3 linked regions of the Homo sapiens genome follow. The protein of the gene in region 1 purifies or fractionates together with the protein of each later gene. This does not show direct contact. Each region holds a gene or a part of one and is shown in the gene's direction. Other genes may lie near its edges.

What was found.
Region 2: the proteins of HSPA12A (region 1) and IL22RA2 purify together in Homo sapiens (co-immunoprecipitation; one large-scale study listed by IntAct). This does not show direct contact.
Region 3: the proteins of HSPA12A (region 1) and ZNG1A purify together in Homo sapiens (affinity purification with mass spectrometry; 2 studies listed by BioGRID and IntAct, with this or other methods). This does not show direct contact.

Annotation. Positions count from the first base shown.
Region 1 is NC_000010.11:116,736,013-116,739,667, reverse strand, and holds part of HSPA12A (heat shock 70 kDa protein 12A), read left to right. Parts: intron 1-3,655. UniProt on the Homo sapiens protein: Adapter protein for SORL1, but not SORT1. Delays SORL1 internalization and affects SORL1 subcellular localization.
Region 2 is NC_000006.12:137,171,435-137,175,189, reverse strand, and holds the start of IL22RA2 (interleukin-22 receptor subunit alpha-2 isoform 1 precursor), read left to right. Parts: upstream 1-1,545; 5' UTR 1,546-1,777; intron 1,778-3,755. UniProt on the Homo sapiens protein: Isoform 2 is a receptor for IL22. Binds to IL22, prevents interaction with the functional IL-22R complex and blocks the activity of IL22 (in vitro). May play an important role as an IL22 antagonist in the regulation of inflammatory responses.
Region 3 is NC_000009.12:169,040-172,694, reverse strand, and holds part of ZNG1A (zinc-regulated GTPase metalloprotein activator 1A), read left to right. Parts: exon of another isoform or gene 1-206; intron 207-522; coding exon 523-614; intron 615-3,655. UniProt on the Homo sapiens protein: Zinc chaperone that directly transfers zinc cofactor to target metalloproteins, thereby activating them.

The DNA of each region.
Region 1 (3,655 bases):
CCCCCTCCCGCATGACCTGAGTGGGTTGACACATGGAGCCCTAGAAGGGTGAGATGAATTGGGGGTGGACAGAGTGGTTCGGACAGGGATGGCTCCTATGGTGACCAAGTCAGGGCTAGACATGAAGAGTGGAAACCAAGTCATTTTTTCCAGGGCACGGGCTTGAGGAGAGGGATGGTGGGCAGGCAGTTTTGCCTGGGTTGAGGGTATCTCTCGAGGCCTGGCATTGGGCTTTGGAGATGCCATCCTGGAGGTTCATCTTAATAAAAATAAACATTTTAAACGTTCACTTTTATTGAGGACTTAGTGTGTGCTGAAACCTGGGAATATTGAGTTATCTCATTTAGCCCTGACCACGTTTGTTGTTGAATGAATGACTATGAAGGACGCCCTGTGATCCCCATTTCACAGAGGAAAAAGCTGACAGTCCTAGCAGCGCACAGCTGGAAGGGGGCCTAGGTAAGGACCTAGGCCATGGGATGCAGGCCCCAGGTGGTCAAGCTGAACAGCCTCTCCTGGCATGTGCCTGGCATGTCATAGGCCCTCAGGGACTTGTGTTGAGTAGGCCTGCGGCTAATAGAGAGTGGCTGCCCTACTTCCTTCAGCCACCAAGCTGTAGATGGTAGTGACAGGGCGCTGGTTATAGCCCCCAAAGGAAGTAAGCAAAGGTCAGGGTGATGCTCTGGGCATTGCAGGTTAGGGTTCTGGCTATGGGATCCACTTCCGTGTCAACATCTGCTGCTGCAACTTGTCTGCCGCCTTGGTGGTCCTCCCATGCCTTCTGTGTATGTCCCTACACAGTGTCTTGTGTTTCCCAGAGCCTTGTGATCGCCTTTGGCCCTGGACACATGCAGTCCTCCCTGCTTGGGACATCCTCTCTTTGTTTAGCAAGGTCCTACTCATCCTTCAAAACTCAGTTAAGGTATCACCTCTCAGGAAGCCTTCCTGGGCTCATCCATCGGGATGAGATCTGCCTGTGTGGTCCCAAAGCCTTCGGTACTTAATGGTTGATAATTCCAACTAGTGTTTGTTGAGGCCCTACGATATGCCAGCTTTGTATGCCTGTATCTCATTGACTCCTCCAGCAACCCTGTGAGGCTGGCATTATTATTACCCCATTTTGCTGATAAGGCAATTGAGGGCTTTGAAAAACTTGCTAACTTGCCCAACCAGTGAATGCTGGAGTTGGGATATGAGTCAGCCATGGAGCCTAAAATCTTGTGCTGTTTCTCTCAATGCTCTTTCTTCCGAGAAAGGCGTGGACTATGTCTTTCATTTCCATTTTTTTTTACTAAGGACACTAGTAGGTGTTCAATAAATGTCTTACTTTTTGTTGAGTGTCAGTCAGCAAGACATGAGGGAACACAGCAGAGGGCAATGGCGTCTACATCTTGCCCACTCCGCAGTGGTGCTCCTGGAAATGTGGATGCTCAGGAGTGGGCCAAGCTGGAGGGGAGTCAGGCAGGGCTTGGACAATCTCAGAAGAGAAGCTGCTTTGATTCCAATAAGGCCTGGAGTGACGACTCAATCTTGTGGGGGCGAAATGCTCTCTTTTCATATAAATAGGCCTCTTTGGTAAGGGAGAAAGCATCTTTATTACTGCTGTGCATAATTAGAACAGCGGGGAGGAATCAGGGGCTTTTAATGAATGAGCAGCGTGTGGCAGGGAATGAGTGAGCGCCTGCCACTGCGGGCACCCCCAGGCCTGGGCATCCCCAGGAGTGAGCGGGGCCAGCGAGGAGACGACCAAGGAAGCACAGGCAGTGCTCAGAATTGAAACCTGCCCCACTGAAGCGGGCCCTGCTGATCCTTGCTGCGTTCCTGTCATTGCAAATGACTCCCAGGCTGCAGCTTTGCAGATGCTGCTCTGAGCTCTGCCAGGACCACCCCTCTTCTTCCAGCCTTGACCGTGACCTGGCAGCCGCAGATGTCCTGCGGGGCTGGCAGCTGCTCCATGGCACCCCTTCTGGGCAATCCTGAGCTGCAGAGTTTTTGCCTTGATTTTAGTCCCCTTATTTTTAGGGTGGCCATATGTCCTGGTTTGCTGGAATAGTTCTAGTTTATGCCTCTTTTCCTAGTGAAATTAGTAATAATGATATCTTTCACCTTCTAAGTATCTCAGTTTGGAAGGTGAATTATGTGGTTGCGCTCCTTATCTTTGTCTTCTCAGCCATCCGGGCCTCAAGACGGATGAGGGAGGCAGTAGGGTGTGCAGGTAAACCTGGGCTTTGGTCTCAGATGCTTGTAACATCTGGGTTTAACGTTGCTGCATCTGTTTTTTCTGCTGTAGACAAGGACGATTAATAATCTCTGCTCTACTGGGGTGCTGTGAGAATGAAATGAGAGAGTATTTGTAATGAGCTTAGGTATGAGCCTGGTACACAGAGGGCTCTCAGTAACTTCCAGTCATTTTATTATCATTGTTAGGTTGATTTGGGAAGCGTAGTGGTTAAATGTGAGATCTGGGGCCAGACTGCCTGGGTTCAAATCTGTGCTGTGTCATTGACCTGCTCTGTGACCCTGGCAAGTTACTTAACCCCATAAAGCCTCAGTTTTTCTCATCTGTAAAGTATGGATTATAACAGTCTCTTCTTCATATGGCCTTTATGAGAATTAAATGAGTTTTTATATGAAAAGCACTCAGAGTAGAGCCGGGCATGAAGTAGACATTGAATTAATATGAGCAATTATTATTGGCTGTTATTGTTATTATGAATAAATGTCCCAACTTACATTCTTGTAGGCAGGAGGAATTATCCAGTACATTTGTTTCCTATTGCTGTTGTAAAACTTACCACAAATTTAATGGCTGAAAACCATACAAATTTATTATCTTACATTTCTGGAAGTCAGGAATAAGTCCAAAATGGGTCTCCCTGGGCTAAAACCAAGGTGTTGGCAGAACTGTATTCCTTCTGGAGGCTCTAGGGGATAATCCATTTCATTGCCTTTTCAAACTTCTCGAGGTGACCTGCATTCCTTGGATCGTGGCCCCTTCCTCCATCTTCCAAGCCCATCACTCCAGCCCCTGCTTTCATTGCCACATCCCTTCTCTGACTCTGCCCCTCCTCCTCCCATTCCCTTTCTAAGGACACTTGTATGAGGACCTCTTATTAGGCCTACTTGTGTAATCATTTCCCCATCTCAAGATCCTTAATTTAATCACATCTGCTGACTCCCTTTTCCCATAGGAGATAACATAGTCATCGGTACCAGGGGGCTATTATCGAGCCTCTCATAGCCAGAAAGATTGGAGTCTTGCCTAGGTTTGGGGTGTTGGAGAGTCTTCTGTGTCCCTCAGGAGCTGTCTGAAGTTTGGAAATGACTCCTCCTCCGTGTTGTACATTAGGTCAGGTTCCTCGTGCACCTGCTGCGGGTTGCCCTCCCTGGAGTTTGGATTGTGGATCAACCCTTGACTTCTATTCAATCTCAGTAGGGTCCTTAGAGACATTGTTACTTTTAGGGCTGATTTAGCCCCTTCTGAGGGGCCCATGACTCATTGAGATCTGAATAAAAAGGTTTATTGGCTCCCAAGCAGGGAAAACAATCAATGCATTAAACAAGTTATTGAAATGTCTATAAAATGTCACATTATATTTGCTTTTACTATGTAGCAAACCACCCCAAAGTTTAATGGGTTAAAACAATAGTCTTT
Region 2 (3,755 bases), on another chromosome or scaffold:
GCTAATGTAGGGATGTGCCTGATATGTTTGAGAAACAGCAAAAAGACCACCCAGGAGGGAGCACCATGGGTTGGGAGGAGAGCAGTAGGAAATAAATTTAGAGGTAACAGGACCTGGTTATATAGGGCTTAGTAAGGGACTGGAAAAATGTTGACTTTCAATCTGAGTGAGATGGGAAGGCATCACAGGGTTCTGAATAAAATGTTCTATTCTGACATTTAATAGGAACACTCCACCTGATGCAGAGAACAGTGACAGAGGCAGGCAGACCAGTAAGGAGGCTGTGGCCACAGTCCACACAAGAGATGATGATAGCAGGTTACCAAATGGGTACAGTGGAGGAGGTGAAAACCAGTTGGATTCTGGTTATGCCATGAAGATATTTTCAGGATCAAACAATACATACAAACATACTGGTGCATGGGCATAATGATTGATGATATCTGGTAGGGGTTTCAAGGTGACCTTGGGTGAAGAATAATCAAAGCTACATATTGGGTACAATGTACATTACTCGGGTAAGAGATGCAATAATATCTCAGACTTCACCACTGTGCAATCCATCCAGGTAACCAAAAACCACTTGCACTATTGCACAGCTACTGAAATAAAAAAAATACATATTTTTTAAATGTTACCACTCCTTTATGTTTTGGTTTTCAGAAATAAATTTTAAAAAATTTTTTAAAGAATAATCAAAGCAAAATCAATAGCATCTTTTATCCAGAAAAATAAGAGTGAAGAGCAGGAAAGGTTAACCTCATTAAGCCCTATGTCCTATGAGTGGAGATTTTAAATAATATATTAGTGATCACAGTCCAAAAACTCAGATTAGTCATTGTGCTTATCACCTGTGTTTGAATAACAATGTTTCTTTTTCTTTTCTGAATTCAAGTTCACAAACCATTTTGAATTTTTGCATGCCAATTATTTCCAGAATGCCGAACTGCTTAAAGGACATGAATATTACTCGGTGGAGCTATTAATGTCCCAGCAAATAAGAAAGAACAAGTTGTTTCCCTGTTGTTGGCTCTACAGCTCTATAGTTTTCCAGAGAGGGAGAAGGGTGGTGTTCAGATTATCATTCATGATGAAACTTTTAAAAGATGCTCAGCTGCCCACCAAATCATAGGATGAAGGAAAGGGCCTAGCAGAAACACAGTTGCTCTGACTTCCCTTCAATGGACAGCACCAAAGTCATACTGAACACCAGTTTTTAAACACTTCTCTGAAAAACAATAAGAAACACTTAGCCCTTTGCTACCAAGACCTGGTTGAAGAAAATGCTGTTGGTTCCCTGAGGGCTGGCTCTGTAGTCTTGTTCATTTCTGCATCCCCGATGTCTAACACAGTGCCTGGCATATAACAGTTGCTCAATAAACATTTGTTTGACTGAATAAACGATTCGAGAAGCCAATGGACAAATGTTCTTTGACATCATTCTATCCCTTTATGGAATGTCTATTACAAGCAAAGAATAACACAAGAGGAGTTTCATAATACTCCTCAGGCCCTGAGGCTAACCAGATCTGATTTCAGCCCTCACTTTACCACTACTCGCTATAGAGCCCTGGTCAAGTTCTCTCCACCTCTCTATCTATGTCTCAGTTTCTTCATCTGTAACATCAAATGAATAATAATACCAATCTCCTAGACTTCATAAGAGGATTAACAAAGACAAAATATGGGAAAAACATAACATGGCGTCCCATAATTATTAGATCTTATTATTGACACTAAAATGGCATTAAAATTACCAAAAGGAAGACAGCATCTGGTAAGTAAACTTTATTTATTTATTTATTTATTTTTTTGAGATGGACTCTCGCTTTATCGCTGCCCAGACTGGAGCGCAGTGGCGCGATCTCGGCTCACTGCAAACCTCACCTCCTTGACTCAAGCAATTCTCCTGCCTCAGCCCCACTGAGTAGCTGGGATTACAGGCACACACCGTCACGCCTGGCTAATTTTTGTATTTTTAGTACAGACGGGGTTGCACCATGTTGGCCAGGCTGGTCTGGAACTCCACACCTCAAATGATCCACCCACCTCCGCCTTCCAAAGTGCTGAGATTACAGGTGTGAGCCACCGTGTCTGGCCACATCTTGTAGATAAACTTTAAAAATCTTTTTTCTTTGTTATGAACAATTTTAAGTACATACAAAAGTAGAGTATAATAAACCTGACACCCAATTTCAACAGTTATCAGCTCATGGATGGTAACCCCCTTTCCCAGGCCTTTGTATTATTTTGAAGCAAATCCCAGACATGACACCATTTCATCTGTAGTACTATAATAGGTAGCTCTAAAAAAAAATAAAAATAATAACCAAAATTCCACATCACACCTAAAAACAATGAAAAATGATTCCTTAATTAGATAAATGGTTGGTCTGCTGGAAGCCACAAGAAGAAAGGAAGAAGAGAATCAAATCTGTTCAAGACAGGGGCTTAAGCAAGTTCTCTCCAGAGTCAACACGATGATGGAAATACCCGTTGTCACCGTCAAGGTGGACTCTCCCTGCTGCGGAGTGGGGCCGAGGTCGGGGGAGGGCAGGGAATGAAGCCAGCATTTCATGCCTGAAAGGAGGCAGAGCGGAGATCCCCTAGTGACTAAAACTTTCTTACTTCCCAAACAAAACAGCATTTCATTTGAAACAATTCTGTACAAATTCTTCTGCTTCCAGATTGATGGGAAATTAGAATTTAATTTTATCTTTTCATCTACCTTGAGGCCTTGTTGACAGTGTTGGCTTTTATGCAGGTTCTATTACACAACTAGAGCTAATTGAACAGTGACAGAACTGGTCTGGTTTGTGAAATTTAATAGAGCACCAAAGCTCACGTTTTGGGGAGAATTCAGTTCTTAAATATGTTTTGCTTATCCCACTCCGCCTAATTTCCCCTCATTTGTTTGACAAAGTCAGCAACCCAGTGGAAACCTCAATTTCGTTCTCTGCTGCTCTCATCATAAAACCTCGAATTTAAATATTTTCCTTTTATTCTTAGCTGGAACTTGGAGCAATTTGGTGGCTTCAAAATGAGATCTATTGGTATTGAAGCCATTGAACATCAATAGTGCAAACCCACATTATCATCCCCCATTTAAATACCAAAGTAAATGTGAAGTGGTAAACATTAGCAGGGAAGTGAATAACAATGCTGAGAAGGTTGCAAGCTAAGGAGCATGAAGAGGTGAAAAGGGAACATAAAACGTGCTGCATGTTTCTTCTTTCAAAGCAGAAGCTACCTTATAAGCACCAAAAACTTCAGCTGGAGGAGATACAAGCCTGGATTCAGAAGACTGCCGTAGAACAGAGGCACTGGGAAACCTGATGTTATCCACACAAACCTTTCCACATAGGGCTGGCCTCAGAAAGCATGCAGCGCAACTGCCCTCCAATAACTGAAATTTGTTAAATGAAAATTGATAGTGGCCTGGTCCACTGGGATCTGGTTTCTGAGGAAATTTCTGATAAGCTCTCTTCTAAGACCCTTTGCTCAGGAATAAGGTTTTCCCTGCGTGGCCCCAGCTCCACCCAAGGCCTCACAGTCTCAGGCACCCGAGTGTCTAGAAATGTTCACAGGTGCTGGGTCATGGGGTTGGGATGGAGGGTCTACACTTGAGAACAACTCCTCTGCTCCTGTCTGTATGCAGAAGGCCATTCTTCCCTTTCTCTTTGAAGACTCTGCCTCCTCCACATCAGCAGCACCCAACCCTCTCCTTTTAGCACTTTCATTTTACCTGCTTCCCC
Region 3 (3,655 bases), on another chromosome or scaffold:
CAAATGTTTTGGCAAGGATAAAATTATAACAGACTTTCTTGAACAACCAAAATATAATCTATTAAGGATTTTCCTTCACTTTTGATAAAATAAGAAAAAAGGAAATTAAAACCTTGCATCCTAATGTAAAATAGAATTATATGGTGTTTAATATCAGTGTCTCTTTAGCTATTATATTAAACTACTATAGTTAATACATTTTATCATTATTTTGTATGTTGGTTTTTAAAAATTTCATAAAGCTATAAAAAGATACTTGGTCAGATAAAGTTTCCTCTGCTTTTAATTTTGATAAAGTATTATGTATATGATTTCTTTTTACCTATTATATATATGCATCTATTGTTTTCTCACTGGTAAATATGGGACGGACATTTTGTTAGAAGGTTAGAAGTGAGTTAAATTTTCACATTCCCAAGGGTACTTTTGTCTCGGGTTGTTGAATATATTTTAAAGTGTTTATAATAATCACTTCAAAATATTTAGGTAATTAACTGTAAATTATGTTTTGGTATTCTCCAGGGACAGTGGCCTTAGAGCTATTGAGAATTTGATGCAAAAGAAGGGGAAATTTGATTACATACTGTTAGAGACCACTGGATTAGCAGACCCTGGTAAGAAGTGAGATTATTAATAACCAGAATATAGTTCTGTGATATATTGTAAATAGATGTATTAGAGGAATATCTAAAATGAGGATTAAAGCTTTTGTTAGTATTAAACCAAAAACTTTTTTTGGTTTAAAAGAGGAAAAGTACTCGGTTGTCATTTTCTTTGGCAGTTGAATGAATGAACAGAGTATTTCTTGGTACTTTTAAGCTGTTAATAGAATTTGAAGTTTTATTGATTGACTTAGGATTATTTGTAAGAACAGAAGTTGTTAAAAATAAGGACATGTAGGAAGAGCAGAGACGTTCTACCTCTAAGTACAGTTGTCCCTTGGCATCCATGGGGTATTAGTTCCGGAATCTCTGAGGATACCAAAATCTATTAATGTTCAAGTCCCTTACATAAAATGGTGTAGTATTTGCCTATAAGCTATGCACATCCTCCCATATACTTTAAATCATCTGTAGATTACTTATAATACCTAATACAATGTAAGTGCTGTGTAAGTAGTTATTACACTGCATTGATAAGGGAATCATGACAGGAAACTCTGAACTCTACTATGGAAAGCTACACAGAGTCAACCTGTTTCTAACAATGGGTTTCTGTTACCTTCTTACCAAGCTCTAATTCTTGATAAAGTCTGCTTATTTTCCCCAAATAACTTTTAGATAAAATCTTTATTTTCATTTTGCATAAAAGTTAGTGCTTATTCTGTGAATCTGACCCATACCATTATTTTTTTTTTTGATCTGGGTCTCTGGCATTGGGGCGATTTGTAAAACTATATTAAAGTATTTGGGGGTAATTTACTCAACAGGTCATAGTTGTCCAAAAGAAATATTGAAGTATCCTGAGAGTTCAAATGTGATCAGTGGTTATTGTACTTAAAACAATTACATAATAACATCATCCCCATGTTTTCAAAGTAGTATTGAATTAGGCTATTTTGGTCCTTATAGTAGGCATGGGTTTTCATACCTTTCTGATAAATCTGACTGATGATAGGACTTGGACTAATATGTTGGTGTTAAATATTTGAATCTGGTAAGAAAGAAAAATATATTGTATGCTTTTATTAGAAATAGCAAATATCAGTTTATTTCATCATAGCCAGTTTTGCCATTTTATAGACAAAAACTTGATACTTTTGAGAGTTTAATTAAACACGATTCAGCTTTTCAGAGGAAGAAAGAAAAACTAAAGATCACAGAGAAAGCTTTTATACAAATTGTAGTTATAAAAAATGTTAATGTTTCTTGCTTCTAACTTTCTTTACAATAAAGATTTTATTGTTTGGGTAAAGATGGAACATTCATTGTAAAAAAATTTAAATACCTAAAAAATACAAAGAAGAAAGTTGAAAAGTAATCATCTCACTTTTGTGATATACAAGTAGGGGCTGGGCATGGTGGCTCATGCCTGTAATCCCAGCACTTTGGGAGGCTGAGGCAGGTGGATCCCTTGAGGCCAGGAGTTCAAGACCAGCCTAGCCAACATGGTGAAATCCAGTCTCTACTGAAAATTCAAAAACTAGCCAGGCGATGTGGCGCACCCCATAATCCCAGCTACTCAGGAGGCTAAGGCAGGAGAATCGCTTGAAAGCTGGGAGGCGGAGGTTGCGGTGAGCCGAGATCACGCCACTGCACTCCAGCCCAGGCAACAGAGCAAGACTGTACACACACACACACACGCACATGCACATGCGCACACACACACACACACACACATTCATACACACACACACACAAGTAGGTACATTTTATTCCAGGGATCTCTCTATGCCAGTGCTACTTGGTAGTATGTTGAATGGCAGCCTCAGCCTCAGCTGGGAGCTTGTTAGAAAGGCAAATTCTTGACCAACCCAGATCTACTGAATCGGAATCTCTAAGGGAGGGGGTCAAGCAAGCTGTTTTTAATAAGCCCTTCAGGTGATTCTTATACTGTACAGCCATACCGCAGGGATATTGTGGGCTTAGTTCCATATCACTGCAGTAAACTGAATATCACAATAGAGTGAGTCACACACATTTTTTTGTTTCCCATTGCATATAAAAGTTATGCGTTTTGGCCGGGTGTGATGTCACAGGCCTGTAGTCCCAGCTACTTGGGAGGATCACTTGAGCTCAGGAGTTTGAGGCTGCAGTGAGTCATGATTGCACCACTGCACTCCAGCCTGGATGACAGCATGAGACCCCATTTCTTAAAAAAAAAAAAAAAAAAAAAAAAAAGCTGTGTTTATACTATACTGTAGTCTATAAAATGTGTAATAGAATTGTCTAAAAAACATACATACCTTAATTAAAAATATTTATTGCTAAAAAATGCTAACAATCATCTCAGCTTTCAGCAAGTCATAGTCTTTTTGCTGGTAGAGGGTCTTGCCACGATGTTGATGGGTGCTGACCAATCAGGGTAGTAGTTACTGAAGGTTGGGGTGGCTATCGCAATTTCATAAGATAATAATGAAGTTTGCTGCATTAGTTGACTCTCCCTTTCATAAAAGATGTCTCTATAGCACATGATGCTATTTGATAGCATTTTACCCACAGTATGACTTCTTTCAAAATTGGAGTCAGTCCTCTCAAACCCTGCTTTATCAATTAAGCTTCTGTCATATTTTAAATCCTTTGTTGTCATTTTGACAGTGTTCATAGCATCTTCACCAGGAGTAGATTCCATCTCAAGAAACCACGTTCTTTTCCCGTCCATAAGAAACAACTTCTCATTAGTTAAAGTTTTCTTATGAGATTGCAGGAATTGAGTCACATCTTCAGACTCCCCTTCTAATTCTAGTTCTCTTACTGTTTCCACCACATCGGCAGTTATTTCCTCCATTGAAGTCTGGAATCCCTCAAAGTCATCTGTGAGGGCTGGAATCATCTTTCAAACTCCTATTCATGTTGATACTTTGATCTCCCATGAATCACAAATGTTCTTAATGGCATCTAGAATGATGAATCCTTTCCAGAAGGTTTTCAATTTACTTTGCCCAGATCCATCAGAGGAATCACTGTCTATGGTAGCTATAGCCTTATGAAATATA